5 separate regions of the Homo sapiens genome follow, and all the other regions are linked to region 1. The links come from fine-mapping of genetic effects on gene expression. A gene starts in region 1. Each other region holds a variant in brackets. All regions are shown on one strand. Distances are between the middles of the regions. Region 1 holds the start of LMNTD2-AS1 (LMNTD2 antisense RNA 1). Region 2 holds the start of CDHR5 (cadherin related family member 5). Region 3 overlaps PHRF1 (PHD and ring finger domains 1). Region 4 overlaps HRAS (HRas proto-oncogene, GTPase). Region 5 holds the start of PTDSS2 (phosphatidylserine synthase 2).

Evidence for each region. PIP is the estimated chance that this variant, and not a neighbour inherited with it, causes the effect.
Region 2: its variant is fine-mapped to the expression of LMNTD2-AS1 in sun-exposed skin (GTEx, PIP 0.96).
Region 3: its variant is fine-mapped to the expression of LMNTD2-AS1 in tibial nerve (GTEx, PIP above 0.99). The same link has a PIP of 0.9 or more in gastroesophageal junction.
Region 4: its variant is fine-mapped to the expression of LMNTD2-AS1 in whole blood (TOPMed, PIP above 0.99).
Region 5: its variant is fine-mapped to the expression of LMNTD2-AS1 in whole blood (TOPMed, PIP above 0.99).

Annotation. Positions count from the first base shown.
Region 1 is chr11:557,087-562,163 of GRCh38, forward strand. LMNTD2-AS1 (LMNTD2 antisense RNA 1) reads left to right here and starts at 2,176. Exons shown (of 2, transcript NR_147607.1): 1 at 2,176-2,390; 2 at 2,693-3,020. LMNTD2 (lamin tail domain containing 2) reads right to left here and starts at 3,652. Exons shown (of 14, transcript NM_173573.3): 1 at 3,597-3,652; 2 at 1,770-1,893; 3 at 1,528-1,680; 4 at 1,075-1,162; 5 at 798-953; 6 at 486-554; 7 at 313-401; 8 at 1-11. The coding sequence starts at 3,630. RASSF7 (Ras association domain family member 7) reads left to right here and starts at 3,884. Exons shown (of 6, transcript NM_003475.4): 1 at 3,884-4,391; 2 at 4,676-4,806; 3 at 4,993-5,077. The coding sequence starts at 4,683. RefSeq lists enhancers at 1-425, 4,687-5,077.
Region 2 is chr11:621,219-627,206 of GRCh38, forward strand. CDHR5 (cadherin related family member 5) reads right to left here and starts at 3,737. Exons shown (of 15, transcript NM_021924.5): 1 at 3,600-3,737; 2 at 3,339-3,514; 3 at 2,995-3,045; 4 at 594-686; 5 at 344-445; 6 at 127-237; 7 at 1-32. The coding sequence starts at 3,684. It overlaps SCT (secretin), which reads right to left and starts at 5,963. Exons shown (of 4, transcript NM_021920.4): 1 at 5,855-5,963; 2 at 5,670-5,771; 3 at 5,479-5,571; 4 at 5,091-5,312. The coding sequence starts at 5,925. The coding sequence ends at 5,213. RefSeq lists an enhancer at 5,497-5,988 and a silencer at 5,591-5,885. The variant C/T (reference allele first, on the strand shown) is at 3,456.
Region 3 is chr11:590,623-596,610 of GRCh38, forward strand. It overlaps PHRF1 (PHD and ring finger domains 1), which reads left to right. Exons shown (of 18, transcript NM_001286581.2): 5 at 762-845; 6 at 1,937-2,052. Among named protein-coding and RNA genes, the nearest start is that of PHRF1, 17 kb to the left of the region's middle. RefSeq lists an enhancer at 4,879-5,378. The variant C/G (reference allele first, on the strand shown) is at 2,420.
Region 4 is chr11:526,698-532,538 of GRCh38, forward strand. It overlaps HRAS (HRas proto-oncogene, GTPase), which reads right to left. Exons shown (of 6, transcript NM_005343.4): 6 at 5,545-5,825. It also overlaps a transcript of LRRC56 not described here. Among named protein-coding and RNA genes, the nearest start is that of HRAS, 6.0 kb to the right of the region's middle. RefSeq lists an enhancer at 1,808-2,345. The variant T/C (reference allele first, on the strand shown) is at 3,270.
Region 5 is chr11:448,954-454,941 of GRCh38, forward strand. It overlaps PTDSS2 (phosphatidylserine synthase 2), which reads left to right and starts at 1,326. Exons shown (of 12, transcript NM_030783.3): 1 at 1,326-1,684. The coding sequence starts at 1,503. RefSeq lists enhancers at 826-1,512, 1,111-1,390, 5,974-5,988 and silencers at 1,421-1,660, 1,851-1,910, 1,921-2,010. The variant C/G (reference allele first, on the strand shown) is at 2,923.

The sequences.
Region 1 (5,077 bases):
GCCGGGGCTGCCTGTGGACCACGCTCTGCTTGATGGCCACTCCAGCTCCAGACCCCAGCCCTGCCCCCGTCCAGCCTCACAAGGCAGTGCAGCAGGGAGCCCCTCTTGCCTCCCAGTACCCAGGCTCAGTTCATGGCAGGACAGTGATGGCTGCCTCAACCCCAACGCATTCTACAGATCAGAGAACGCGCATTGGAAGGTTTAAGAGACTTATCCAGGGACACTAAATGGTCCTTTAGTGTCCTGCGTCTTCACTTGCCAAGGTGAGCCCTCCCTTCTGGCCCCTGGGGAGTCCCTGCTCTGTGCAGTTACTTTTGCTTTGAGCTGGGCTCCATGTTGGTGAAGAGGTTGGGATACCGGCGGGCAACGCTGTTCCAATCCACGTCCTCCAGCCGAAAGCCCTGGCCAGGAAGCAAGAGGCACATGGTCCTCCCCTCCCGCAGGGCTCCAGATACCAGACCACACACGTGGGAGGCCTAGCTCACCTCCCCGGTGGGGGCCTGAATGTTTTCAGAGAGGTCGCTTGGGTCCATCAGAGTCTCTGCCGTCACTACCTGCAAGAGGGGACCGGAAGCCAGTGGGCAGGGGCTGGGTGCTCCCCTACAGCACCTCTCCTCTTTGACCTCACCTGTGCTTTGAGGCCTCCTGATTCCTCCCTGCTGGAGCCCAGAGTTCCAGAGGCACCTGAGCAGGGCAGGCTTCCAGGCAGGCCAGGGCGCCCCAGCAGAGGCACCCGACGAGATGGGGAGGGCTGGGGAGGGCAGCCTGGGGCAGGAGGGCTTGGGGGACAGGCTCACCTCCACACTGCCAGTCTGGGATCGTAGCATGCGGCCCACCCACGAGGAGCGGGCCAGCTGCAGGAGGCAGGACTTCTGCAAGTTCTGCAGCTCGGCCTCCATCTCCTGGAGCGTGCGGGTGGTCTGCAGCAGCCGCTCCTCCAGGTGCTCCTTCTCCTGCTCCGAGAGGGCCTGTGGTTGGTGGTGGGGGGGTGTCTTCTGCAGAAGGCCCCCAGGCCAGCCCCAGCCTGGCTCCCCAACACCAGGACCCTGCCCACTCCCTGTGCCCCTGCCTCACCCACTGGGCTCGCTCCTTCTGTTCCTTCAACTCCTGGATCAGCTTCTGGACCTGGTTCTGCAGGAGTTTCTCCTGACTGTGGGAGCTCCTGGAGGAGGGGTGACCTCAGCAGCCCCCACCCTGCTCAGGCAGGGGTTCCTAATGTCAGGTCAGTGGCGAAGGAGGGGAGAAGGAGGGGCTCCACTGCCACCTTGGCCCCAAGGGCACACAGTACAGCCCCGCTGGGGCTGGCCAGCCTCCGGCTGGTCTGGACAAGGGTCTAGCACCCATCCACATGCGCAGGGTTAGGGTGGAGGCTATAGCGTGTTAACTTAGGATCAGGGTGGAGGGTCAGCGCGGGCAAGGATGAGGGTAAGGATCTGCCTCAGCGGTTGGGGTTGGGGTCAGACAGAAACCAGGAGTCCGGGCGAGGACAGGGCGGGGTTGGGTTGGGCTGGGGACTGTGCTGCAGACCTCTTGGGCGGAAGCCCCGCCACCTCTTCCAGGATGTGGCAGAGCCGGGCGTCCTCGCCATTCTGGATGGCCCACCGCAAGGCCTGGATCTCCAGTTCTCGCTGTCTCCACAGCAGCCGCAGTGTGCGAGGGTCCAGGGACTCAAGAGCCAACCTGCAGCGGCAGCAGACCCTGCTGCTTACTCAGGCCGGCCCCTGGCCACCTGGCCCAGGAGGCTCACCAGTCCTCCCTCTCCTCCTTACTGCGGGTCGGCAGAGCAGACCACCGGTGCGGGGTGGGGCGTGGTGTCTGGCAGGCACGTGGGAGTCTCGGGGGCTGCAGGTGCGCCTGCTGGAGGTCCCAGGTGACCACTGACCGACTCTTGCTCTGTGGGGGACAGGAGAGCCTCTTCCTCGGTTTCTTCAACCTCCTGGCCAGACTTGGGGGCCATTCTCAATGTTCTTCGGGAGCTGGGAGGGGTGGGGGGCCCGTCTGCCGTGTGCGCCTCGTGTGGCCACACAGGTTGGAGCAGCCCAGGCGTCACCACTTACTCACAGAGCGTTGCTCTCTGAAGGGACCCACATGTGGGTGTCCACACCCGTGTGTTTCTGACCAGGCTGGCGCAGCAGGTCACCACCCGACATGTCCCTGGCGTGTACCCCTGCCACCCAGGTGCTGGCCCTTTGCCTGTGATGTGGTGTCCCTCTTTCTCTCTCTTGTCCCCCCAGCTCAGGGCCCTACCCCCAGCACTCACCTGAGGCCCGACCTCCAAGCAGGCCTGGGAGGGAAGGGCTGTATACCGTTGCCATGGATACCAGCACCCAGAAGGGGTGGGGCTGTTTGTTACCAGGAGCCTCCAGGGAGACCCCAGACCAGGCCCCTAGGTGAGTTCTGGGCCAGCCCAGCCTGGAGGAGGTGTGAGAGGCTGAGCCACTGCTCAGCTTAGCGGGGGGACCACTTAGTGACCAACACCCTGAGGGAGGCCCCAGCATCCCCTACCTAGCCTGGCAGCAGCAGCGGGATAAATAGGGGGGCACTGCTGCCTGTGAGCCAGCCCAGCATAGCCATGGGTGTGTGGGGGAAGCAGACAGGTAACAGTGACAAGCTGGGGACTGTGCTGAACGCTAACTGGCAATAGTACACTCCTGCCCACAGCCTGTTTTTAAATTAATAATTAATTCTTTAGAGACAGGGTCTTGCTCCGCTGTCCAGGCTGGAATGCTTCGGTGTGATGACAGCGCACGTTAACCTCGAATTCCTGGGCTCAGGTGATCCTCCCACTTCCGCCTCCTGACTTGCTGAAACTACAGGCACCCGCCTCCACCGCCAGGCCCAGCCCACAGCTCCTTTGACCTCAGTGACAGGCACTCACCTACCTGACCCCCAAACTGAAGCCTCACTTTTCCCAGCCGTGTCCACACCCTCTGGGCTACCCCATTACCATGACAAGTATTCCCTCTGCTCCAGGAGAAAAGCCAGGTCCCAGACCTGACCCATTAAAACCCAATCATTCCAGCTTTCACCCTTCATCTCTGCAACTTTCGGCTATGTAAGGGCTCCCTGGGGGAGCACAGGAGACAGGCGGGCAGGAGGCCCACGCCCACAACTCTTTCTGAGCTGGGCAGAACAATCAATGGCCCACACAGCTGACCGCGAGGCTGCGGGGCCCTGGGCGGGACAGTAGGGTAGGGGGTGAAGGAGCGGCTTCCAGCCAGCTTCACTGTGTGCATGGCCTGGCACTGGGTCCAAAAGGGGCAGGAAGGTGTCGGAGAAGAGCCTCAGCTAGAGTCCGGGCCTTCTGAGCGGGCACCTCCCGCACCAGGACTCTGCGCCCGCCAGCTCCGCAGGGCTCCACCTCCCTCGCCGGGACTGGTGACCCTGCGACCCCGCGACCCCTGCGCGTCCAGACTACTGCAGCTGCGGTAGGCCCCAAAGGCTGGCCCGGGAAGCGAGGGGAGGGGCTGGCCCCGCTGCCCCTGGACGCAGGCGGGGGTTGCGGGATCTCAAGCCAGAGACCCTTCCTGGGCGGGAACCCGCCACACTAGAAGGCTGCTGAGGAAGTCGGCCCAGGAGCGGGGCCAGACACCTACCCCGACGCCTGCCCGCGGGCCGCAGCCACCGCATTTCCGCGTTTTTCGCGGTAGGCGGGAGGTGGGGGCGGGGACTGCGGCTCGGCGCCCCCCTCCGACCCGCCCACACCTGTAGTCTCGGGGGGGGCGGGGCGCGGCGACGAGCCAATGGGTCGGGGAGGGGCGTGACAGAGGCAGCCAATGGGCGCGGGGAGGGGGCGGAACGCCCGCGCTGAGCAGCCAATAGGGGTGCTAGGGGCGGGGCGTGCGGACCGCGGGCCAATGGGGGCGCGGGGCCCGGGTGCGCCGCGGCGCTGGGGGCGGCAGGTTGCGGCGGCGCCGGAGCGGGTCTCCAGGCTGGCGAGCGCCCAGGTGAGCCGCGCCGGGTCCCCGGTACTTGGGAGCGCGGGGCGCGCCTCGAGCCGGCCGGACGCCGACTCCAACTGGGGAGAGTTTTCCGCGATGCCCGGACGGAGAGCGGGGGCGGCGCCGCACCTGCGCCCGCCCTGCGGAACGGGGACGCCCTGGCTCCCGCCAGGCTGGGGTCGCGGCGCGGGCTTCGGTGCCCGCGGCGGGGACCGGGACTTTCGGGGCGAGCGCAGCGATTAGGCGGCAGCGGCGGGGCTCCCCGGGCTGGCGGGGGCTGCTCAGACCCGGAGTCTGCTCCATCTGCAGGGTCGAGGTCTGGGTTGCGACCCCGAGCGCCTCTGCGGCCTGAGCAGGTCGGGGTGGGGCGTTCCCATGCCGGCGGCCGCGGGGCCTGGCGTGCGGGCGCCTCCGCGCCGCCCGGGGAGGGGGCAGTGTCCTCCGAGCCAGGTGAGGCGAGTAGGAAATGCTGGATCTGGTTAATGATTCGCCTTGTTCCGGGAGTGCGAGCGTGGCAAGAGGAAGCTGGTGAAGTGGGGGAGGATGCGTGCTCCGGAGGGCCGCCACCCCAGGAATGTGTGGCTGGCGGGTGGGGCTGGCACAGGAGGGTGGGGCCCGTGCGGAGGGGCGGCAGCCCAGCCGTTTCTAGGGCAGGCCAAGAGGATGAGGAGAGGAGGACCAGCCTGCGATAGGAGTAGGCAGGTCCTGACCCGGTGCCTGCGCCCTCCCCACAGGACAGGCATGTTGTTGGGACTGGCGGCCATGGAGCTGAAGGTGTGGGTGGATGGCATCCAGCGTGTGGTCTGTGGGGTCTCAGAGCAGACCACCTGCCAGGAAGTGGTCATCGCACTAGCCCAAGCAATAGGTGAGTCCTCTCGGGGTCAGGCAGGCCGGGCAGGTAGAGCTGAAGTGGGACCTGGTGGTCCAGCTCCATGGTCTCCCCCAAGGAGAGTGGGGCTGGTTGCTGATCCTTTTTGTTCTTCCCAACTCTTCAAGCCAGGTGGACAGAGAGTCGGGGGGACATAGGCTGACCTTCTCCTCTTCTTCCCAGGCCAGACTGGCCGCTTTGTGCTTGTGCAGCGGCTTCGGGAGAAGGAGCGGCAGTTGCTGCCACAAGAGTGTCCAGTGGGCGCCCA
Region 2 (5,988 bases), 65 kb after region 1:
TGGCTGGGTTCCACATTCTCCCCCGGAGTGTCCTGCAACAGACGGCTGTGCTGGATCAGGCCTGGGAGCAGCTGGGGCCGGGGGGCCTCAAGTGTGTGGGACTCGGGGCTGGGGTGACCTGCTCACCCGCACCAGCAGCCAGAAGGTCATGTTCGGCCGCTCGTAGAAGTCCAGGGGCCGGTCCAGCCTCAGGGCGGGACGGTTTACACTCACCAGGGAGAAGTAGTCACTGGCACCCTGGGGAGGGTCAGGGAGGACAGAGCCTAAGAGCCTTGGAGGGCGAGGGCGGCTGTGGGTGTCAGAGGCGAGGGGCTCGTGCTGGGGCAGGGTGGGCGGCACTGACTGCTGTCATTTCCTGGAGGGTGTAGAACAGAATGTCGTCCTTGTCGCGGTCCTCAGCCTGCAGTTGCGTCTCGGGGATGACGGTGGAGTTCACTTTCGTGTCCTGGGGAGGGAGAGGGGCTTGGTCCGGCCACACTCTTGGCCCCTGTGGACCCCCACTGTGGTTGAGCCCCCGGCCACCACTCACCTCCTGCCCTCACCCTGGGCTCCCACACCCCCGTGCCCAGTCCCCGCGGCTTCGCTGGCCTCACCTCCTCCACCCTTATCTCCTTGGTCTTAAAGGGGAATTCGGGGGCATTGTCATTGACGTCCAGCACTGACACGAACACCCTTAGCTGGGTCACCTGCAGGATGTGGCCGTCAGCCTCTCCCACAGCCCCTCCCCGTTGTGAGGTGCACCCCTCGACGGCTATCCGTCCCCACCGTGAGTGAGGTGCACCCCTCAACGGCCACCTGTCCCCGCCCTAAGTGAGGTGCACCCCTCGACGGCCACCCGTCCCTGCTGTGAGTGAGGTGCACCCCTCAACGGCCACCCGTCCCCGCCGTGAGTGAGGTGCACCCCTCAACGGCCACCCGTCCCCGCCGTGAGTGGGGTGCACCCCTCGACGGCCATCCGTCCACTCGCTCATTCAGTTGTTGGGGGGCTACAGGGGCTGCACAGCTCTAGGCGTTGGGATTCAGAGATCACAAGAGACAAATCTCTGCCTGGTGGTGCCTGTCCTGGCAGGACTTATAACAACAGACAAAAAGGACTTTATAAAGCCAGGAGGTGGCAGGTGCTCCACAGAAAAATAATGCAGGTACTTGGGGATGCAGCCAGCAGAATCTCAGGTGAGGAAAGACAATCCATTTTCTTTTCTCTGTTTTTTTTTTTTTTTGGTTTTTGTTTTTGTTTTTTGGTTTTTGGGTTTTTTTGGATACAGTCTCGCTCTGTCGTCACCCAGGCTGGAGTACAGTGGTGTGATCTCGGCTCACTGCAACCTCTGCCTCCCAGGTTCAAGCGATTCTCCTGCCTCGGCCTCTGCCCACCTCGGCCTCCCAAAGTGCTGGGATTACAGGTGCCTGCCACCATGCCCAGCTAATTTTTGTATTTTTAGTAGAGACGGGGTTTCACCATTTTGGCCACATTGGTCTCGAACTCTTGACCTCAGGTGATCTACCCGCCTCGGCCTCCCAAAGTGCTGGGATTCCAGGTGTGAGCCACGGCGCCCAGCCAGGACTCTTCTTTTTAGAACATAACCACAATGTCGTTGTCACACCTGGGAAAAGCGGTCACTTTCTACCTCAAATGTCCAGGATGCCACATTCCCCGTGGTCTCTGAAGGGTTTTTTAACAATTGTTTGTTTGAATCAGGGCCCACATTATGGACCTGGTTGGTAATTCTCCTGAGTTTCTGTTCATCTGTACCTTTCCCTTTCTCCCATCTTTTTTCCTGGAGATTTATTTGTGAAGAAACTGGATTGTCAGCCGGGCACGGTGGCTCACACCTGTAATCCCAGCACTTTGGGAGGCCGAGGCGGGCAGATCACCTGAGGTCAGGAGTTTGAGACCAGCCTGACCAACATGGAGAAACCCCGTCGCTACTAAAAATACAAAAATTAGCCGGCCGTGGTGGCGCATGCTTGTAATCCCAGCTACTCAAGAGGCTGAGGCAGGAGAATCGCTTGGACCCGGGAGGCGGAAGTTGCAGTGAGCCGAGATCGCTCCACTGCACGCCAGCCTGGGTGACAGAGTGAGACTCTGTCTCAAAAAAGAGTCTCTCTCTTTCAGAGACATATCCCAAGATATGTGCAGGTGACGTGCCGTGGTGCATGGAGGGCACAGAGCCTGCTGTGTGCTGGTAGGTGAGGGGGCCTGTGCTGGCCTCAGGATTCTGCAATTTTCCTTAATAAAGCCGAAAAAAATGCCGCCGGTCAAGAAGCAGGATGTTGGGGGAGCGGGGCTGGGATGCAACAGGGCATAGGGTGGTTGGGATTTCTCTGAAGACTGCAGTCCTGAGCCGGTGAGGGAGGGGCGTGCCTGGCGGGAGCCCTGAGGCTGCAGTGGAGCCTCTGCACAGTATGTCTGGGTTTGACTCGGTGAGAAAGGAGCCGTGGAGGGCTGGGGTGGGCTGGGCAGCCTTGGTTTACAACATCCACAGGGGCTGTTCTGCCACGTGGAGTGGACTGGGGCCAGCAAAGGGCAACAGGGAAGCCGGTGGGCCAGCTGGAAGTTTCCCAAAATGAGTGCTGGTGTCCCGGCCCTGATGGGACTGGAGGTGGACAGACTCTGGATTTCTGGGTCGAGCTGGGGCACAGCCAACAGATTTACCAGTGGGGGGCTGTGGGGGACACGTGGGGAGGGAGGGCGAGTGGGAACCAAGGTGGTCCCCGTGACTGGCAGGATAAAGGTGCCTCCCTTGTGGATGGTTGAGGGAGTGGGTGGGAGTCTTGGGCACACTGGATGGGGTGTCTGCTGGACAAGGGGTCAGTGACGGGGACTCCACAGCTCAGGGCAGAGTCTGGACTGGAGGAAATGTGGGCATCACCCTCGGGGGGGTGGAATTTGAAACCACACCCTAGCTGACGTCATCAAAGACTGGTCCTGGACCGGCAGGGCAGAGCCCAGCAGAGGTGGCCGGGTGGGGCGGGGAGAGCGGGGCGGGGACTCACCAATGTGCCTCCGCTCTGACACAGCAGCTGAGCCTCAAGCAGTGACTTCTCCTGTGGATGTAGACAGGTCTGCAGTCACCGTCCTGCCCCACAGGTGGGGAGACTGAGGCCAAGTGGGCAGGCGCTGGCCCAGGGTCCCCATCATCAGTGGTCAGTGCTGAGGGTGTGGGCCCAGGCAGCTTCATCCCGAAATGGCCCAGCCTTCTAGGGCAGGCACCACCAAGCATGGGTGTCAGTGGATGCCCGCAGGCATAGAACTCCTAGGCCCCCAAGGGAGGTGTGGCCTGAGGATGCAGGTGCCCTTCTCCCGGGACCCCCATATCCCGCCCGCCTGCCGCCCACACCTCGTAATCAGGAGTCACGTTGAGAAACAGCTGGTTTCCCTGGATCCGAAATGCAAAGGGGGTGGACAAGGCTCCGAGGGTCACCTCCTGGCCCTCCGGGACGTGGATGTCCACCAG[C/T]GGCTCGGTGACATTTGTGTTCTCCTCTACTTCAAAGATGTCCTTGTTCACAGAGCAGTCTGTAAGGTTGCAGAGGAGGGATCAGTGCCTCCCAGCCCCTGGCTCCCCGCCGCCCGTGCCCCACCTACCCCTGCCCGCACATACACTGGGCCTGGGCCATGGTCCCCGGGGGTCGGACGAGCAGCCCGGTGAACAGCAGGGGAGGCCACAGCAGGGCCCAAGACCCCATCTTGGCGGCTGTCACCTGGCAGGAGGGTCTGAGCGGGTCTGGCGTCTAGGACTGGCGCAGTTCCTACCTCAGCGACCTTCGCCCCAGCCAGACGCCGCCCAGTTTATGATCCTTTACGACCGGCTTCTGCCAAGGGGGCTCCCGCTGGCCGGCTGGTCCAGCCCACTGCCAGAAGGAGGGGCAGTCGTTTGGCCCAAGTTGGACTGAGTGCAGGGGTCAACCAGGGGGCTCAGGTCACAGGCACCGAGGCACAGGGCAGAAGGGACTGGAGAGCGGCTCATGGGTGCCGTGGGGGTAGGGGCAGGGCAGGGGCAGGGCTAGGGTGTGGGAGAGAAGCTGGGGGCTGGGGGCGGGGGCTCGGCCCTTGGTGTCGGGGTGTCTGGAACCTGCCTCCCTAGCCCAGGCTGCCCTGGCTTGGCTCCTCCCCTAAGATCTCCCTCAGGCAAAGTTCCTAAGGCCACCCCTTGAGGCTCAGAACCCGGGTGTTCCCCAGGGAGCACCTCCCTCCCTGCCTGACAGCAGGTTCTGAAGGAAAAGGCTCTCCTCACTGTGTCCTGGGGACACCCCTGCCTGCCCCAGAGACAAGTCGGCTTCTCAGGGCGGGGCTGGACAGGGCCTTAGTGACTGAGGCTAAGGCGGGGCTGTGAGGGGCAGCTGGGAGTTCCTGGGGGGCCCTGGTGCCCGACAGAGGGGGTGAGGTGAGACTCGACACTTGCCCTGCTCTTTTCATTGGCCCCCCAGAAGCCCCCAGCTCTAGGGAGAGGCCACTGGGTAGGGTCGGGGCGAGGAAGTGGCTGTCGTGAGGGGTAGGTGGAGTTCTCCTCCTCCAGGCCTGTGCGCCGAAGCTTCTGGCCTCTCATGGCTGGGGCTGGGCTCAGTGTCCTAACCCTGCACGGTGCCCTCATGGTCGCCTTCAAGCCCTGCACGCTCCGTGCTCCACAGGCTCTGAGGGGTCAAGCCACTGGTCCGAGGCCACACGAGACAGAGGGTCCGGAGTCCTCACGCCAGAGTGGATTCCTGGCACCCCAGGTGACACCTCCACCCTCCCCTCTTCCTGCCCGCCTGAGCCCCCCTGGCCCCTTCACACCCTCCCCACTACCCCTTACAGAAACACTGACCACATGGGCCCCCGGGCAGGAGCTGAGAGGGTGTCCGGGATCCCCCGAGCCCCAGAATGTTTCCTAATGGATGACAAGGGGTGGGGCGGGGCCCTGCAGTACTTAGTCGAGGTACAGGAGGTGGCCCTGATGCCAGAGATAAGGATGAGGGGCCGCCGTGCCTGCAGGTGTAAAGGGCAGCTGGGTGTGGTCAGTCCCTCCTGGGTGGATGGGCCTCCATCCATCCCTCAGCCCCGCTACACAGGGGTTGCCTCGATTACACTGAGTGGACACAGACAACTCCCAGCGTCTGGGTCTGATTCCTCCTTTATTGGTGCCAAGTACCACCCCTCCCCCTCTCCCCCATCCTGCCCCCCACCCCAAATGCAGCTGCGCTCCTGGGCCGGGCAGGTGGTGAGGGGGTTCCTTCCTCATCTGGGCCGCAAGGTTCCTTCTGCAGCAGCGCCAGCTGGTTCTGAAACCATAGGCCCAGGGGGCAGCCAGGGAGACCAGGTCCCGTCCAGGGGCATCCTGCAGAGACAGCACGTGAGGGTCTGAGGGCTGGGGCTGGAGACCCCGGCCCCGCTGCTGGAATTGGGCCTCCAGTGGCCACCAGCGCTGACCCGGGGAGGCCAGGACAGAAGGAGGGGTCTGGGGTGGGGTCTGGAGTGGGGTCTGCGGTGGGGCGGGTGCTCACCAGGCCTGCAGGATGGGCATGTTGGACCCTGACGGGCAGAGCAGACCCGCGCTGAGCCTGGTCCAGGCCATGCTGTTCTCTGCGTCCTGCTCGCTGCCCCCCGCCCCAAAACAGAGTTAGTCCTGGAGCTGGGGGGTCGCGCGTTGCTGCTGGGGCACCACGCCAGGACCCCCCACCCCACCCGGCCTCACCTGCGCTTCCCCACCAGGCCCTGTAGCAGCCGCTGGAGCCGCGCGCCCTCCCGCAGGCGGCTGAGCTCGCTGGTGAACGTCCCGTCTGAGTGTCGCCGGGCCCTGCGGGCGGTCGGGGGTCGGGGTCAGGGCGCACTGGGGGCGGGTGGGGCCCGGGGGGCGGGCGGGCCTGGCGGGCGGCTCACCTGGGGGGCGCGGGGCGCGCGGCGGAGCCCCCGAGGAGCAGCAGCAGCAGCAGGAGGGGCCGGGGGGCCATGGCGGGGTCGGGGCGCAGGAGCTGAGCGCTGCGGCCACGGCCCCGGGCCCCCGCAAGGCCCCT
Region 3 (5,988 bases), 34 kb after region 1:
AAGATCTTATGTGGGTCAGAACACTATTAATAAAGGCAAAAATAAATTTGCAACGTATACCTGACTGTTATCCATACTATGAAAGTAAATTTTTTTTTGAGATGGAGTTTGGCTCTTGTCACCCAAGCTGGAGTGCAGTGGCGCCATCTCGGCTCACCGCAACCTCAGCCTCTCGGGTTCAAACGATTCTCCTGCCTCAGCCTCCCGAGTAGCTGGGGTTACAGGTATGCGCCACCACACCTAGCTAATTTTGTATTTTTAGTAGAGGCGGGGTTTCTCTGTGTCAGTCAGGCTGGTCTCGAACTCCCGACCTCAGGTAATCTGCCTGCCTCGGCCTCCCAAAGTGCTGGGATTACAGGTATGAGCCCCTGCTCCCGGCCTATGAAAAGAAATTCTAAAAATTTACTAGTGAATGTCCAACAATCTTTTGGAAAAGTTAGCAGAAGACTTGAACAGGCTCGCCGCAGAGGGGCCTGTGCACAATGCCGCCCCCACGCCTGTCCTTCCTCCCTTTATTGTTCTTACTTGTCACTGAGATGCTACGCGTTCATGGAGCTGCTCTTTCCTCCCCGCTAGGGCTGGCAGCTCTGCAGGGAGGCAAGGCTCGCTGTGCTCCCTCCACTGCCGTGTTGCCAGCAGCTTAGTGGAGGGCCTGGCGCATGGAGGCATTTAGCAGATACTTGATTTTCAGTGTAAAAGAATTTTTGATCTCTAAGTGAAAGTGATTGACAAGATTCTGATCCTGTTTTTATTTCTCACAGAATGCCAATTCCTGTCCAGTTGATCGAACTCTATTTAAGTGCATTTGTATTCGAGCTCAATTTGGTGGTAAAATCTTAAGAAAGGTGAGTGTGGACGCTGCCGTGGAGGCCCCAGCCGTGCTTCTATCCCGGCCCTGTGGGACAGAGCATGCTTTCCAAAGTGGGCTTGCTCTCCTGAAATGAGGGTTGGTTAAATGCTTCATAGAAATCAACTCAAGTGCCCCTTGTGGCCATGAGCCCTGTCTGGGGGGTTTGGGGTCTGGGTTGGGGGTTAGAGGCAGAGATATTGCCAGCTCCTGGGATATCCCTTCGACCCCACCCCTGTACCCATCACATCTGGGAGCAGTGCTCTGGCCCGTCTGCTCGGAGCTCTTTATTTTTGAGACACCATCTTGCTCTTTCACCCAGGCTGGAGTGCAGTAGCACAATCACAGCTTACTACAGCCTCAATCTCCTGGGCTCAAGCAATCCTCATGCCTCAGCCTCCTGAGTAGCTGGGTCCACAGGCATGAGCTACCACACCCGGCTGTTTTTTTTTTTTTTTTTCCCGAGACAAGAGTCTCGCTCTTTTGCCCAGGCTGGAGTGCAGTGGCACAATCTCGGCTCACTGCAAGCTCTGCCTCCTGGGTTCACGCCATTGTCCTGCCTCAGCCTCCCGAGTAGCTGGGACTACAGGCACCCGCCACCACGCCCGGCTAATTTTTTGTATTTTTAGTAGAGACGGGGTTTCACTGTGTTAGCCAGGATGGTCTCGATCTCCTGACCTCGTGATCCACCCACCTCGGCCTCCCAAAGTGCTGGGATTACAGGCGTGAGCCAACGTGCCCAGCCTTTTTTTTTTTTTTTTTTAAGAGGCAGATCTTGCTCTTCCGTGGCAGTCCAGCACCTGCTGCCTCGCCCTACTGCGGCCCACTTTGGGGCCGCAGGGCTTACCCGCTCCTTTCCGTGCATCATACTTTGTTTTCTGTTGAATACTTTCCTCTTAGATCACCACCCTGAGATGGTAGAAAACATAAAAATCCCTGTGTACACGTGGAGGGAGACCCTCTGGGCCTGTGGAGCCCAAATATGAATCTAAGGCAATGGGTGGATTCTGGATTAACTGCGTTTCACGCTGGGAAGTGACTGCGGGGAGTTTGGGTCCTGTGTGGTGGTGACCGACGATTCTGTCCTAGATCCCAGTGGAGAACACCAAAGCGAGCGAGGAGGAGGAGGACCCGACCTTCTGTGAGGTGTGCGGCAGGAGCGACCGTGAGGACAGGCTTTTGCTCTGCGACGGCTGCGATGCGGGGTAAGGGACGGTTGGGACTGGCACACGTGCCCTGCTGCGTGCAAGGCGGGCCAGGCGCAGGAGGGATGCAGAGCCTCTTCGCTCTGTGAAGTCTGAGTCCCAGCACCTGGAGCTGTGCTCACCACCCTCAGCAGCGCGGTTCAGTCCTGCGGGCCTTCCTGTTACACTCATTTACACTTCAGTCTTTCCCCAAAAAACATTCTGAGGCTGCCCACAGAAGTGCAGGTAATACATCAAGACAAAAAAGAAAACAGCCGGACAGGAGGCTGTGGGGCTGGTCAGCCAGAGGGTGGGACGTGTCCTGGTCCCGGCCTTTGTGGGGGAGGGGTGGCTATGCCTGCGTCCATCATTCTGGCTGCCTTGGTCC[C/G]TCACCTTTCACCCTGCTCCTCCTTCACCCTCTGGTGCATGTCCAGTTATGCTGCACCTGCTGCTCTCCCTGGCACAGCTGAGAGCGCCTGCTCTGGCCCTGCGTGGCCCTGGCTTCCCGGGAGCCTGTGACACTTGTCTCCTCATCCCTGCTTTGTGTCGTTGGCTGTAAGCAGATGCCCCCTTCCCCGTTAGCCTCCTGCGAGGGGCTTTCCCTGTTGATTTGAATAATTTTTCTGCTGTGAAATTATGGAGAGAGGATTCTGGAAATCTTTCCCTTGTTGAAAGAACCAGTGAGGCTGCTCGATCTGGGGCCTTCTCTTGGGTGGGAAGTAGCTGGGTCAGGGTTTGGACTACGGAACAGCCGGAGCCAGGAGGCCTTGACGTGCCGCGGCTGGAGCCGCACCGAGGATGGGCTCCTGGTGAAGGCCTTTGCTCTGTGGCGGGTGGTCCCGGTCGTCCCAGCTTTGACTCGTCCTTGAGCACAGCCGCTTGTGCCCCCACCTGTCACCTCGTTGTTAGCCACATACCCAGGCCTCTGCTCCACTCACGCTGTTGTTGGTGCAGGAATCGCTGGCTGTCCTTTTGCAGACACTGCAGGGGCCTCCTTGGGGGTCCTGCAGGCGGCCACCACGTTTGTCTCATCGTCAGTTCGCCCTCCTCCTCATGGCCTGTGGGAGTACAGGGGCCTTGCAGTGCGCTCCGCCGGCCCTTCCAGGTCCCCAGCCCCTGCTTGGTCCTGCCCTCTGCTCCCAGCAGCCGGGAGATAGCCACGCCTCTGCTCACATTCGCAGACACCTCGCCGTCCCTCCTTTCTCACGAGTCTGAGCCTAAATCCATGTTTTGTGAGTTTCCTGAGTGCTCTGCCCTGACGGTCCTCACCTCCTCAGGGTTCCTGGGAGCGTCTGCTGCCAGTTGCCCCGGCAGGCACTGAGTTGGTTGCTGTGAGTCTGAAGGGCAGGGCTGCTGCCTTGACTATCCCAGCAGCCTGGTCATTGCAGCCCTGGGCACAGTGCTTATTGGCTGTTGATTACTGACTTACACCGTGAATATATGCAGAATGCTTAAAAAGAAAAAAAAAGGTGGAGGGGTGGCTCAGCACTCCATGCCCATGTGTAGGACTGGTCCTCTTTTGTCCTCTTTACCTGTGGCTGCGGCCACTCTGGGCATGTGAAGGAAGGGCCTGGGCTGGCCTGGAATCGCTGGACACGGCCTGAGAGACCATGGCATGATAGACCTGGTCCTGGTCGCCACAGGCACCGTCTTGGGCAAGGCCCTCATCGCAGGCCAGGGCCGTGAGCCTTCTAGTGGCTCGAGGGCAGCTGGTAGGCCAGTTTTCACGCACAAAGCCTGGTTTTCCTGTTAGCTTTTATTTTACTCATTTACTTATTTTTTTCAAGGCAGAGTCTTGGTCCGTCATCCAGGCTGGAGTGCAGTGGCGCCATCTTGGCTCACTGCAACCTCTGCAGCGAGTCACTGCAACCTCTGCAGCGAGTCACTGCAACCTCGGTTCAAGGTTCAAGTGACTGTCCTGCCTCAGCCTCCTCAGTAGCTGGGATTACAGGCACATGCCACCACACCTGGCTAATTTTTGTATTTTATGGAGAAACGGGGTTTCACCATGTTGGCCAGACTGGTGTGGAACTCCTGGGCTCAATTGATCCGCCCACCTCGGCCTCCCAAAGTGCTGAGATTAAAGGCGTGAGCCACTATGCCCAACCTAGTTGTAGTACCTTCTAACAAGGCTCTTGGGAATGTTTACAGCTTAATTAAAATTTTTTATTATAAATTACATTTACAAACTTGATATATTGATTTTCTTTCTACCTACACTACTTGAATTACTTGGCAGATAAAACAACGCAAGTACATAAAAACCCTGGTGGATCTAAAACATTAAAACTGATCAATATAACGATTCTCATACTTCTAAACATTTCCATACTGTTACAATTTGCAGTCTGCCAAATTTTCAGTTAAGTCTGACTTAAAAATCACACGTCTAAAATTACTCAGTTCCTCATGTCAAAATGGAATCACAGTAGGCCGAGGCGGGTGGATCACCTGAGCTCAGGAGTTCGAGACCAGCCTGGCCAACATGGCGAAACCCCGTCTCTACTAAAAATAAAAAAATTGGCCGGGCGTGGTGGTTCACACCTGTAACCCCCGATCCTTGGGAGGCTGAGGCACGCGAATACCTTGAACCTGGGAGGCGGAGGTTGCAGTGAGCCGAGATTGCGCCACTGCACTCCAGAGAGACTAAAAACAAAAAACAAAAAAACACTATCTGTAGATACACTGACATTACATGAAATAAGATACAGTTTCTGATTTTTTTCTTTTTTAAGTTACAATCTAATTTAAAAGTGTGTGTTCACCAGGGAGGCAGTGCAGGGGCTCACTGAGGCCTGTTAGGTGTGGCCCTCCCCTCCCTGGGCAGGTCAGATCTGAGCACCTTCAGCTGCAGGGCCACCAAGCTCCCTGTGCAGGTGGAGCCATGGGTGCCTGCACCGTAGCTGGGCAGGTCTCGGCAGCCCTCCTTGTCCCCGTGCTCGTATTTAAACTTGCAGCCAATCTCCTCTTCTCGGGGATGAGTGTGGGGGACACAGGCCTGGCCTGGCTGTGGATGGGCGCCTGCCAGGCGCAGAGGGGCCTTCTGCTCGGGCCTCAGGTGAGCCGCAGCCTCCTCCAAGGCTGCTGGAGCTCAGTGGTGGGAAAGTGGGTTGGACGTTTTCAGACTTTGGAATTCTTTGAAAGAAGGTACTGCTCATCCTTGCCTTTGTCCCCAGAGAACTTGTATAAGAACAGATGTTAGGGGACCTAGTTAGGCTCTTGGAGTGCCCCCACCCGCCGCCCCCCTCTGCTGGCCTGGCAGGGCGTGTCGTGTGCCCGGGGCAGTCGGCTTCTCTTCCTGCATGCCTGTCTCCTGTCTTTCTTGTATGGCCCTAGCAAGGGCCACACAGCAGACACCTTCTCATAGGTGCAGGACTCTTGGGAGAATGGGTTTACTCTTGTTTAACTCGTATCTTAGATCCTAGAACAGTTCAGCCCGTGGTAAGTGGTAGTTAAGTTCAGTTGAATTCAGGCTCAATTTTCAGGGAAATCATCAGCTTGACTCCCTTCCCTTGATTGTTTTTGCCTTACTCAGGGCTGTCTGGGGTCTTTGGGATGAAGTTTCAAGGATCTTTGCATAGACTCCCGAGCCTCGGCTGCTTGGAGGGGCACATATACCTCATACCAGTGGCAGCACTTCCCAAACTACCTTCCCAGAAGGCTCGATAGAAACAATTAAAACATAGTTTCCTTTCAGCAAAGAAACCTTCGCCTTCTTCAGTGGCTTGGTGTGAGGTGCAATGTTTGAAAACCCGGGAGTGAGGGTGGGGGAGACAAGCTCTCTGGGAAGGGGGCCCCACAGGCAGCACCTACCGCAGGAGCTCAGTGTGAGCCACTGTCGGCCTGTGGGTGTGTGTCGTGTGTCGCAGCCAGCTCAGTTGCTGTCAGGATACCACAGGCTGGGCAGCGTAAACCGCAGGTCTTCCTTTTCTTGGTTTTGGAAACTAGACATCTGAG
Region 4 (5,841 bases), 30 kb before region 1:
AGGCCCAGGTGGGTGGATCACCTGAGGTCAGGAGTTGGAGACCAGCCTGGCCAACATGGCAAAACCCCGTCTCTACTAAAAATACAAAAATTAGCCAGGCATGGTGGTGGGCACCAGTAGTCCCAGCTACTGGGGAGGCTGAGACAGGAGAATTGCTTGAACCTGGGAGGCGGAGGTTGCAGTGAGCCAAGATCACGCCACTGCACTCCAGCCTGGGCGACAGAGCGAGACACCGTCTAAAAAAAGAAAAAAAAAGAAATATTGTTCAGCAAAAATGCACAGGCACACACACCAATCTTCTAATGTTAGAAATTTTGGGACTGGCCAGGTGCGGTGGCTCACGCCTGTAATCCCAGCACTTTGGGAGGCCGAGGCGGGCAGATCATGAGGTCAGGAGCTCCAGACCATCCTGGCTAACACGGTGAAACCCCGTCTCTACAAAAATACAAAAAAATTAGCCGGGTGTGGTGGCGGGCACCTGTAATCCCAGCTACTCAGGAGGCTGAGGCAGGAGAATCACTTGAACCCAGGAGGTAGAGGTTGCAGTGAGCTGAGATCGCGCCACTGCATGCCAGCCTGGCCAACATCAAGACTCCATCTCAAAAAAAAAAATTTGCAACGTGCCGTGTGGCACTGTGCTAACCACGAGCACCTTGCGCAGTGAACTCTGGGACTCACGCATCTTCCCAGACTGAAATCTGTTATCAGTTGAACAGCAACTCCCAGCTCCCCTCCCCAGCCCCTGCCCACGGCCACCCTACTTTCTGCTTCTGAGTTTGACTGCCTCACAGCAGAGAGTCATGCACTTGGCAAAACGATAGGGTAAGGGTTTTGTTTAGTTTTGGTTTTTTTGAGACGGAGTCTTGCTCTGTCCCCCAGGCTGGAGTGCAGTGGCGCTATCTTGGCTCACTGCAAGCTCTGCCTCCCAGGTTCACGCCATTCTCCTGCCTCAGCCTCCCGAGTAGCTGGGATTACAGGCGCCCGCCACCACGCCCGGCTAATTTTTTTTTTTTTTTTTTTGAGACAGAGTTTCGCTCTTGTTGCCCAGGCTGGAGTGCAATTCCGCGATCTCGGCTCACCGCAACCTCCACCCACTGGGTTCAATCGATTCTCCTGCCTCAGCCTCCCAAGTAGCTGGGATTACAGTCATCCACCACCACACCCGGCTAATTTTGTATTTTTTTAGTAGAGACAGGGTTTCTCCATGTCGGTCAGGCTAGTCCCGAACTCCTGACCTCAGGTGATCCGCCCGCCTCGGCCTCCCAAGGGCTGGGATTACAGGCGTGAGCCACCGCACCCGGCCAATTTTTGTATTTTTAATAGAAACAGGGTTTCACCGTGTTGGCCAGGCTGGTCTTGAACTCCTGACCTCAGGTGATCCACCCGCCTCAGCCTCCCAAAGTGCTGGGATTACAGGCTTGAGCCACCGTGCCCGGCCTGAAACTCTACATTTTTATCCAGGCCTCCCTGGATGGATGTTGGGAGAGTTTACGCGTGGCCTTGTGGGATCGCTGTGGCGGACTCTCAGCTATCAGAGGGCTCCATCACTCCATCGTAAGGAGGCAGCTGGTGGCGAGTCCTGAGCAGGGATGTGATCCGACGGGCAGGCGGCGCCCGGGACAGAAGCTGACGTCACACAGGTGAGTCCCCCACCTCCCCACAGGCTTCCTCCACCCCCTCGGCAGCCCAGCAGGGCCTGTCAATCAGTGGGACCTGGTCAGCTGGCTGCTAGGGGACCTCAGGCAGGGGGGCTTGTCCGCAGGGCCTCCAGCAAGGGGGGACATTCATGACACCCAGCAGGGCTCAAGAAGGTGAGACAGAGGGACACTGAACCCAGCCCTTTACAGAAGACCTGAGTCCACCGAGGAAGGGGGCCAACCCCCTCCCCGCGTCTGCATCCCCAGGACCACCCCGGGTGGAGAGGGCCGAGTGTGGTGCCTCCGCGGGTGCTCTGACGATCGTCTCGAGCCACGGGGGTGACAGTGACAAGGACCTGTGTGCACGTTAGTGGGGCAGCCAGGCCTAGCTGGAGAAGAAACACACACACGCACACGTTCACCCACATACACGTGCACACACATGCTGCCAGTTCAGGGGGTGGAGGACGCTGACTCCAGGCCCAGCTGACCTGCGCGGGGCCCTATTGTGATGTGTGCAGCCACCCCATGACGTCACCGGTGCCAAGTGCCGGCTGTGTGCGGAGCAGTTGGAGACACAGTGGGTGTCCGAGGGGGGGCTCTGCGTCCGGAGGTGAGAGGTGGGTCTCAACACAGCTGCCCTCCCCCATGGTATGGTGACAGTCACTAACAGGTGGCCTGCGCTGGCCTCCACGTGGCTGCCAAGGGCCATCCCTGAGCACTCAGCGGGTGCCTGTTCCACACGGACTATGAAAATGACTGTCTCGTTCACCTCACGGCGACCCCGTGGGGTGGATACGAACTCACGCCATTTGACAGGCGAGACGTCCGAGGTCAGAGGGGAGGAGACGGACCCGACCTTCCTTGGCTGTGCTCTCCAGCCCTGTCCTGTGCTGGACCCAACCTAACCTCTGCAGCCTCCCTGCCCTGGACACAAATCTGGCTGAGACCCCAGACCCTGATGGGGCAGAGCCTGGCACTGGAGGAGCCACCAGGATGGGCCCCTGTGGGTGTGGGCAGAGGGTGATCCTCAGTTCAGGTTTTTGCCAGAAGATGGGTTCCTGCAGGAGGGGGTCTCAGCAGCTCAGACTTCAGATGCGCTCACTGCTGCTCACTGTGGGACAGCCAGACACGGAGCCCTCTGTTCTCCAGCAGTTGTGGACAATGAGGGATCCCTGGAGGGATGCCTGGTGGGCAGCAGGAGTCCCTCTTGTGGGTCAGGGTGCGGGGATGGGCTCTCCCTGCAGGGACTTCCCAGTCTTGTCCTCTGGGATTGGCAGTTTGCAGGGGTATCCTCGGCATCAGACCAGGGGGGCCACACAGGGACCCAGATCTATGGGGCCCAGCCCCGGGAAGACCAGATGGGCTCAGTGGAGAAGCTGACCACATCTGCTTTCCTTTCAGCCAAACCGGGGAGCGTCCCGGCACCCAGGCCTCTGCGGGTAACCCCAGGCATCAAGACCCTCCCTCAAGGGGAGGAGCTGGCTCTCCCCTGCCCATCAGCACAGCTCCAGAATCCCAAGGGGTCAGCTCCCACATGGGGGCCTGGTCCTGCCACACACTGGCCTAGCTGGGCTGTCCCCGAGGCCAAGGCCTAGCGGCATGAGGGGGCTTCCGTGGAGCCCAGGGCAG[T/C]GGGCTGCTCTCTGGAGTCCCTAGGACTCGGGGTGTGGCTGGCCTGTCCCCAGATCAGGACACACCCCAGGTTGTCCAGTGGTTCCCGTGCTGGAACTCCTGTTGAAGCCACCCAGGGACCTGGATGCTTCCCACAGTTCAGCATGGAGCAGGGGTGCTGGGCCCTGACCCCTCCACGTCTGTCCTGGACACCCCAGGACCACAGCACAGGCCCAGCCCTGCAACCCCAGCGGGGCCCTGATACCAGGCCCTGCCCAGCCCCGTAATGACCAAGAGGCAGGTCCAGAGATACCTCCTGCACAGGGTCACCTGCATCTGACGCCCCCAGCAGGCAGTGACCAGCACGGTGTGGAAGGAGCCAGGGTGGCACCCGGCAGCCCTAGAGGGCTCCTGGCCTCGGGAAGTCTATCGATGGGGAAGCTGGTCACTCGGAGGCTGCTGGGGAGAAGGGGGAGTGTGGCATTCCCTGGACAGAAGGGCAAGTGTGGCGTCCCCTGGAGAGAAGGGCGAGTGTGGCGTCCCCTGGAGAGAAGGGCGAGTGTGGCGTCCCCTGGAGAGAAGGGCGAGTGTGGCGTCCCCTGGACAGAAGGGGGAGTGTGGCGTCCCCTGGAGAGAAGGGGGAGTGTGGCGTCCCCTGGAGAGAAGGGGGAGTGTGGCGTCCCCTGGAGAGAAGGGCGAGTGTGGCGTCCCCTGGACAGAAGGGGGAGTGTGGCGTCCCCTGGAGAGAAGGGGGAGTGTGGCGTCCCCTGGAGAGAAGGGGGAGTGTGGCGTCCCCTGGAGAGAAGGGGGAGTGTGGCGTCCCCTGGAGAGAAGGGCGAGTGTGGCGTCCCCTGGAGAGAAGGGCGAGTGTGGCGTCCCCTGGACAGAAGGGGGAGTGTGGCGTCCCCTGGAGAGAAGGGCCAGTGTGGCGTCCCCTGGAGAGAAGGGGGAGTGTGGCGTCCCCTGGAGAGAAGGGGGAGTGTGGCGTCCCCTGGACAGAAGGGGGAGTGTGGCGTCCCCTGGAGAGAAGGGCCAGTGTGGCGTCCCCTGGAGAGAAGGGCGAGTGTGGCGTCCCCTGGACAGAAGGGGGAGTGTGGCGTCCCCTGGAGAGAAGGGCGAGTGTGGCGTCCCCTGGAGAGAAGGGCGAGTGTGGCGTCCCCTGGAGAGAAGGGGGAGTGTGGCGTCCCCTGGACAGAAGGGGGAGTGTGGCGTCCCCTGGAGAGAAGGGCGAGTGTGGTGTTCGCTGGAGAGAAGGGCGAGTGTGGTATTCCCTGGACAAAAGGGGGAGTGTCCCTGCAGCCCTGGCCAGCCAGCGGCATGCCCTGCTAGCTCTCCCCCAACCTCAGGGATAGGGAACCCTGACAGGGCACAAGTCCCCGTCCCAGAGGGGCCTGGCCCAGCCTCAACCCGGGCCCTGGGAGGGGAGGGGCACCAGGGGCGCTGTGGGCCCCCAGCAGAAGCCAGGATGACCACACAGGGGACTGAGCTGTCTGTGGCTGTGGCCAGACCTAGAACTTGGCCCAAGGCAGGGCAAGCCCCTTGGAGCAGAGTGGGTGGCAGAGCCTGTGTATACCCAGCAAGGCTGAGCCAGTGACACTACCAGGCTCCAAGAGCAACCAGCCATGAGGCAGGCGTGGGGCAAGGGTAGGGTGAGGGCAGGGGCGGGGGAGAGTGGGGCAGGAGCAGACGGACCAGCTGCCAACCTCGTCCACTCCAGGAGGCAGGGATGGCCAGGCTCCCACGCCCTACTGGCCGCTACCCGACCACCAATGAGGCAGAGGCCTGAGGCCAGTCGGTGCTGGAGCCCTACTTCCAAGGTCCACAGACCGCTTCAGGCCACAGAGCCGAAGAAAACTGGGCATGTGAAGGCCCAGGAGGCGGGGTCCCTATGTCTGCCATTCTTGGCAGGTGCATTTCACGCTGGGAGCAAGTCAGGAAAGGTGATGCCTCTCACCGCCAAGAAGGCTCCCAGCAGAGACCAGAGCCACCGGCACAGATCCCCAACCCCTGAAACCACCTCCCTCTGGAGGACCAGGACGCCCTCCTAGTTGGTAGAAGCACAGTAAGCTCTCTGTCCTTATGATCTGCCTGCTTGTCCAGAGCTCTCTGCCAGAAGCCGTGGACACTGGGGCAGGCGGGAGGAGAGAGCACCACAGCCCAGACCCCTGACCGGCCTCTCCCAACCTCCCCCTCCCAAAGGCTATGGAGAGCCCAGGGCTGGACAGGCCTGAGGTTCCGACATACCTCATGCCAGGCCACACGCGCACCGTGTCCCACCCTCAGCCGAAAACCAAGATCAAGACCATCCAATAATTTACTGTGATCCCATCTGTGCCCGACAAGGGCCCACAGAGGCCTGGGAGGGGAGCTAAGGGCTGGGGTTCCGGTGGCATTTGGGATGTTCAAGACAGTCTGTGCACAGCCTCCCTGGGAGGGTCTGCAGTCACCTCGGCCCACGGTCCCGGGGTGACTGGGCTCCAGCAGCCCTTCCTTCCTTCCTTGCTTCCGTCCTTCCTTCCTCCTCCTTCCGTCTGCACCTCCTTCCTGCATCCGGCACCTCCATGTCCTGAGCTTGTGCTGGGCGGGGCACAAG
Region 5 (5,988 bases), 110 kb before region 1:
CCCCCGGTGAAAACTCATCTAATTTCTGTCTTCATAGATTTGCATTTCCTGGACATTTCATACAAATGGATCACATAATGCGTAGTCTCCTGTGACTGGCTTCTTTCACCTAGCATTTTTTTTTTTTTTTTTGAGACGGAGTCTCGCTCTGTCGCCCAGGATGGAGTGCAGTGGCACAATCTCGGCTCACTGCAACCTCCACCTCCCGGATTTAAGGGATTCTCCCACCTCAGCCTCCCGAGTAGCTAGGATTACAAGCGCCCGCCACAATGCCAGGGCAATTTTTGTATTTTTAGTAAAGATGGGGTGTCACCACTTTGCCTAGGCTGGTCTCGAACTCCTGACCTCAAGTCATCCGCCCGCCTTGGCCTCCCAAAGTGCTGGGATGACAGGCGTGCGCCGCCGCGCCCGGCCTGCCTAGCATAATGTTTTCAAGGTCCAGCTGTGCTGTAGCATGCGCATGCTTCGCTCCTCTATGGCTAATAACATGCCGCTATTATCAAAATGCTGCAACTAGGAGCGCTAGTGTGTAAATTTGGCGTGGACACTTGTTTCCAGGTTTGAGGAGCTGCCACATTGCTTTTCAGAGTGGCTCAGGAGCTAATTTTTTTGCAGGGTACCATGTCAACAATTTGGGTCAACTAAAATCAGCGTGTCCGCACCATTTTCGCCCGCCCAATTTCACGCGATCCTGCGAAAGAATGACCCAGACCGGTCCGGGCGCGGTGGCTCGCGCCTGTAATCCCAGCACTTTGGGAGGCCGAGGCGGCAGATCACAAGGTCAGGAGTTCGAGATTGGCCTGGCCAACATAGTGAAACCCCGTCTCTACTAAAAATACAAAAATTAGCCGGGCGTGATGGCGGCCGCCTGTAATCCCAGCTACTCGGGAAGCTTGAGACAGAAGAATCGTTTGAATCCGAGAGGCGGAGGTTGCAGTGAGCCGGGATCGCGCCATTGCACTCCAGCTCGGGCGGCAGTGCGAGACTCCGTCTCAAAAAGGAATGACCCGGGTCGCATGGGGTGAAGGGTCGGGAAGCGCCCCAAAAGGAGAACGGGGCTGGGCTCCGGGATCCGTCGGCGAGGAAGGGGCGAAGGGGTGGAGGGACTCGGGCCAGGCCGCCGGGGATGTCTGTGGTTACCTCCAAGCTCTGGAGGCCTTGGCGAGACCCGCGCCATCCGCAGCTTGGTTCCTGCGACCTCAGCCGCAGGGCGGTCCGGCTCCGGTTTCCCAGCAACCAGGCGTCATCCTTCCCAGCAAGCACTGCGTCCAACCCGCGACGTCGGACCACAAGGCCCAGCATGCCCCGCGCGGACTACAAGCCCCACAATGCACCGCACACCCTTTACTGGCCGGCCCCGCGCTGCTCTCCTAAGACCCCGCGGGCCAGCGCCGCGACCCCTTCCCAGCGCTCCTCGCGCTGTGTGCGGCGCGTCCTCTCGCCGGTGACCCGGTGTGCGTGGGGTCGAGGCGCCGGGCGGAGTGGCTCCGGGCCGAAACGCCATGCGGAGGGGCGAGCGCAGGGACGCCGGAGGTCCGCGGCCCGAGTCCCCGGTGCCCGCGGGCAGGGCCTCGCTGGAGGAGCCGCCTGACGGGCCGTCTGCCGGCCAAGCCACCGGGCCGGGCGAGGGCCGCCGCAGCACCGAGTCCGAGGTCTACGACGACGGCACCAACACCTTCTTCTGGTGAGGGCAGTGGGCGGCCGCGGGGCGGCGAGGGTGCCCTCGACCTGGGGGTTCCGGCACCGCTGGCCTGGGGGTCCCCGGCAGCGCCCTCTCGCCGTCTTGGAGTCCAGGACTGTGGCCGGGGGTTTGAGGGTGTGGCAGCACCGCCCCCCGGGTCCCGGGGAGCGGCCGGACCGAGCTCCCGACGCCGGGTCGGGCGGAGGGCGGCGCTGTAGGTGGGGGAGACCCTGGGCAGACCCTCCCTGCGGCCGCTTTGCGTCTCTCTCGCCGCCCTCCCCACCCCTGCCCGCCTTGGCTCTGACCGCGCGGTTCTGCGATCCAGACCCCTTCCCCGCCACCCGCCTCCAGCGTCACCCCAGAAACGCTTTCTCTGTCCTGCTGTCGAAGCTTCACCTGTGTCCCCCGTCATTCTGCCTGTGGTTGCTCCTCAGTGCTTGCGGCTGCACGAAATCATCTTGTGTGTCGCGCCCGACCCCACGTGGCGATCGTGTTGATTAGCAGAGTGTTGTGCGTGCTTCAGGAATGTAGTCGGTGTTCGTCGAATCCAGGCTCTGTTTCTCTCCTCAGTTGCCCCTAGCGGGGCCAGCGCCTCCTCCCTGCACAACTCAGCCCTAGCTACACCTTGGGGTCCCCCTGTCCGCCACTCTGCCTTTAATGGGGGTGGAAAAGGAAGAGGCCCCCGGGAGCAGCTGGAGTGTGGCACTCTGTGTCCAGACAGGCTCCAGGTGCCGCTCCTACTCCCGACAGCTGCGACCCTGGGCTGGCCCTTTGCCGATGCTCCTCTGTGAGAAGGATCAAGCCGTCGACCTGAAAGCAGGCTTCGTGAGAGGAGGGTTTGGCTCTTCTTGACTGCAAGGTGCCCAGTTCCCATCCTGTGGAAGGCCCGGGGGCACAGGGGCAGTAGAGGTGGGGTCAGCCCCAGGAAAACGTGTGGGAGACAGGCGCCTGCGGCCAGCAGTGGAAGGAAGGCTTTATGGACGCTTCCAAGAGAACCATGCTGTGGGATGGTCGGAGAGCAAATCTGAGGGGCGAGGAGGGCCTGATGGAGGAGTAAGGGACTTGTCAGGGGAAGGCGCCACCACAGACAGGGACTTAACCGGTCCTGGCCTGTCACCGCAGCCGAAGCTCTGGAGAGAGACTGTCCAAGTGGTGGGAAAGCAGGTTAGGGTGGAGGAGGCCCCACGCAGGGTCTTCCGTGAGGTGTGGGCAGCTGCTGTTGCAGGGAGGGCATCCGAGCT[C/G]TCCTTTGGGGAGATGAGTGTACCGGGTGGCTGCGGGGCCCTCGGGAGGGAGAGGAGATGGGGTGCCTGCCACGTGGACCCTCTGGCTTCCGGGCCCTGTGGACATCAGGCCTCTCCATCAGGTGCCCTGCCACACCCCTTCAGGCTGTCCTCCCGCAGCACAGCTGGGGACCACCGGAGTCTCTGAGGTCCTGGAGCAAGGAGACCAGACTGGCTCTTCTGAGGTCCCGGAGCAAGAAGACCAGACGGGCTCCTCTGACATCCCGGAGCAAGGAGAACAGACGGGCTCCTCTGAGGTCCCGGAGCGAGGAGACCAGACTGGCTCTTCTTGTTTCTCATTTGGCCGTTCAGCACATTGTGGGGACCCCTACTGCCTGTCAGTTACCGTTCTACGGGACATAGCAGAGAACTAAACAAGAAGCTTAGATTCTGGTGCAGGCATGGAACTTCAGAAGGCTCAAAATGTGCTGGCTGGGTGCTGAGTGTGGCAGGAGCCAGGGGGCACATGCAAGCCTGCGCAGCCCACCCAGTACCAGGGAAGCAGGAGCAGCAGCCCAAAGGTAGGAGGGGGCCGGTCTCTTTAGAAGCCCAGACCAGTGGTCCCTGCCCACAAGGGGTGTTTGGGACACAGACGGCTGGGCGCAGCAGAGCTTGCCTGTCAGGAGGCCAAGGGGGTCAGGAGGGCTCTCCAGGAGCGGGTGCAGCGGGGCTGGCTGGTCCAGGTACCTCCTTCCTGGGTCTTCTGGGTGGGTGGCTCTGGCTCTGGCTTTCCCCTCGACCCTGTCCCTGTAGAGACGCATGGGGCAGGTTCTTGCTGTGCCTCCTCCCTTCCCTGTGCAGAGGAAGGAGCTTCACGCTTCTGGGTGGCAGGTAACTCAATGCCTGCCTGGTGAGAATTCATTACCTGCAGAGCCTCACACTGACCTCCTGAGTCCACCTGCACTGACTTGCTGTGCTGGCATTTTTTTAACTCTAATTTTGTGTTTTAGAGAGTTTTACTTTTTATTTTTTATTCATTTTTATTTATTTATTTATTTTTAATAGAGGGTCCCCCTGTGTTGCCCAGGCTGGTCTTCAACTCCTGGCCTCAAGTGATCCTTCCGCCTCAGCCTCCCAGATTGCTGAGATTACAGGCATGCACCACCACATCCAGCCAGGGCGTTCATTTTCAAGGATGGGTGCACTTCCTCGGGCCAGTGACGGCGGCCATGTGTGAATTTTGTTTCTCTGTGACTGCTTGTCAGCCATAGGGATAGGGCGTGCGGTTCGATTCAGGGCTTGACTGGCCCTGGGAGCACGAGGCTGAGCTCTCCTTCTCTGGATTCATTCAGGGTAGCAAGGACAATTATGGGGAACATCCAGAGGAAAACGTTTAGATCCACAGACTCCGAGAAGCCCTGTGCGAAGATGTGGCAGCTCATGCGGTCTGGAAATTGTTTGGGAGAACACTTGGGGACCCCTTACCCTGGCGAGGTGCCTGTGAACGTTGCCGCCTGTCTGTGGGAGACGCTGAAGCAGCTTCGGATGACCACACTTGCTAACCAGTTCCCGAGCTGGGGGCCACTGTGATGTTCTGAGAGTTTTTATTGTATGCTTGTGTCTTGGAATGGGGTGCCTCAAATGAGCCTTCTCAGTGACCTGAGGACTTTATGTGTGAGGTGACCTCTGACCTTCAGATACCCCAGGTTTCTGGAAGATGCCTTTCTCCATCATCCTGGATCGGGGCTTTCCCAGCTTTGCCTACACCTGGGAGGCGCGAGTAGCCAGATGAAGTCTTTCTGGTCTTGCTGGTCAGAGCCAGAAGGGCCAGTGCCCGGTCCAGGAGCCTCTCGCAGGCCTTGGGCTGCCCATCCAGGCGTGGCCTTTCCTTGGCCCTTTGGACGACGACGCCGCGTTTTCCTCTTGGTCTCGGCCTCCCTGCCCACCATGAGAGTGGACATGAGAGTGACCATCTCCAAGGAGGCAGCTGGGTCTTTTCCACTCCCCATGGCAGGGAGCCAGCTGTCTTCACGCCCTCACCCTAGTGAAGTGGCTGAATTGCCAGGATTGATCACAGCTCTGTTCTGTGTCTGATCACAGGACATACACCGTCCTGCAGAGTCTGCAGGCGGGTGGGAGGAGCCATTGAACAGACCTGGCGTCCTGGGAGGGACACGGAATTCTTCCCTTGAGAGTCTCATGCTATCTTGAGCGGCACTCTGTCACTTCCAAGATGTGTAGACGTCGTGCTGCGTGTAGGACAAGGACTGGAGCTCACTAATACGGACCTTACTTTCCAGGAGCGTTGGATTTGAGCAGCTCTGAGATGTGTCCTCCTGCAGGGCTGCTGTGCCTGGTGCCCTTTCTCTGGGTCCCTTACCCTCTGCCTCCCTTCCTGTTGGGTCCTCTTCATTCCCATTTCTGCTTCCCCAGGGCCAGGAGGGTGCTGGGCACTCGGTGGCCACCTCAATGACAGTGTGCACATTTACCTGAAGGGGCGAAGGGTTACCTTTATATTTCAGGTAATCTCTGTGTTTTGGGGAAATGGAAAGATGGTGTTGGGTTAGGGTTGATCAATGATCAGCGTTTCCCTGGGCTACACAAGGAGTGAGTGTTGGGTTGGTGGCCACTTTAGAAACCACAGGAAGGTCTCTGTCGTGGAAAGTCGTATTAAAGGAGTCAAGTTTTACGCCTGTAATCCCAGCACTTTGGGAGGCCGAGGCAGGTGGATCACGAGGTCAGGAGTTTAAGACCAGCCTGGCCAATATGGTGAAACCCGGTCTCTACTAAAAATACAAAAATTAGCTGGGTGTGGTGGCGGGCGCCTGTAATCCCAGCTGCTTGGGAGGCTGAGGCAGGAGAATCGCTTGAACCTGGGAGGCAGAGATCGCGCCAGTGTCCTCCAGCCTGGGTGACAGAGCAAGACTCCATCTCAAAAAGAAAAAAAGAAGTCAAGTTTCAATTTTAACTTGTGTTAGTGTGTGATCCTGTCTTTGTGTGCTGTGGAACTTGGTGCTGGTGGGACACAGGCTGCTCACCCCATCCCTTGAGCTTTGCGTTTATTCCTGGGATTCTGCATGTGAATGG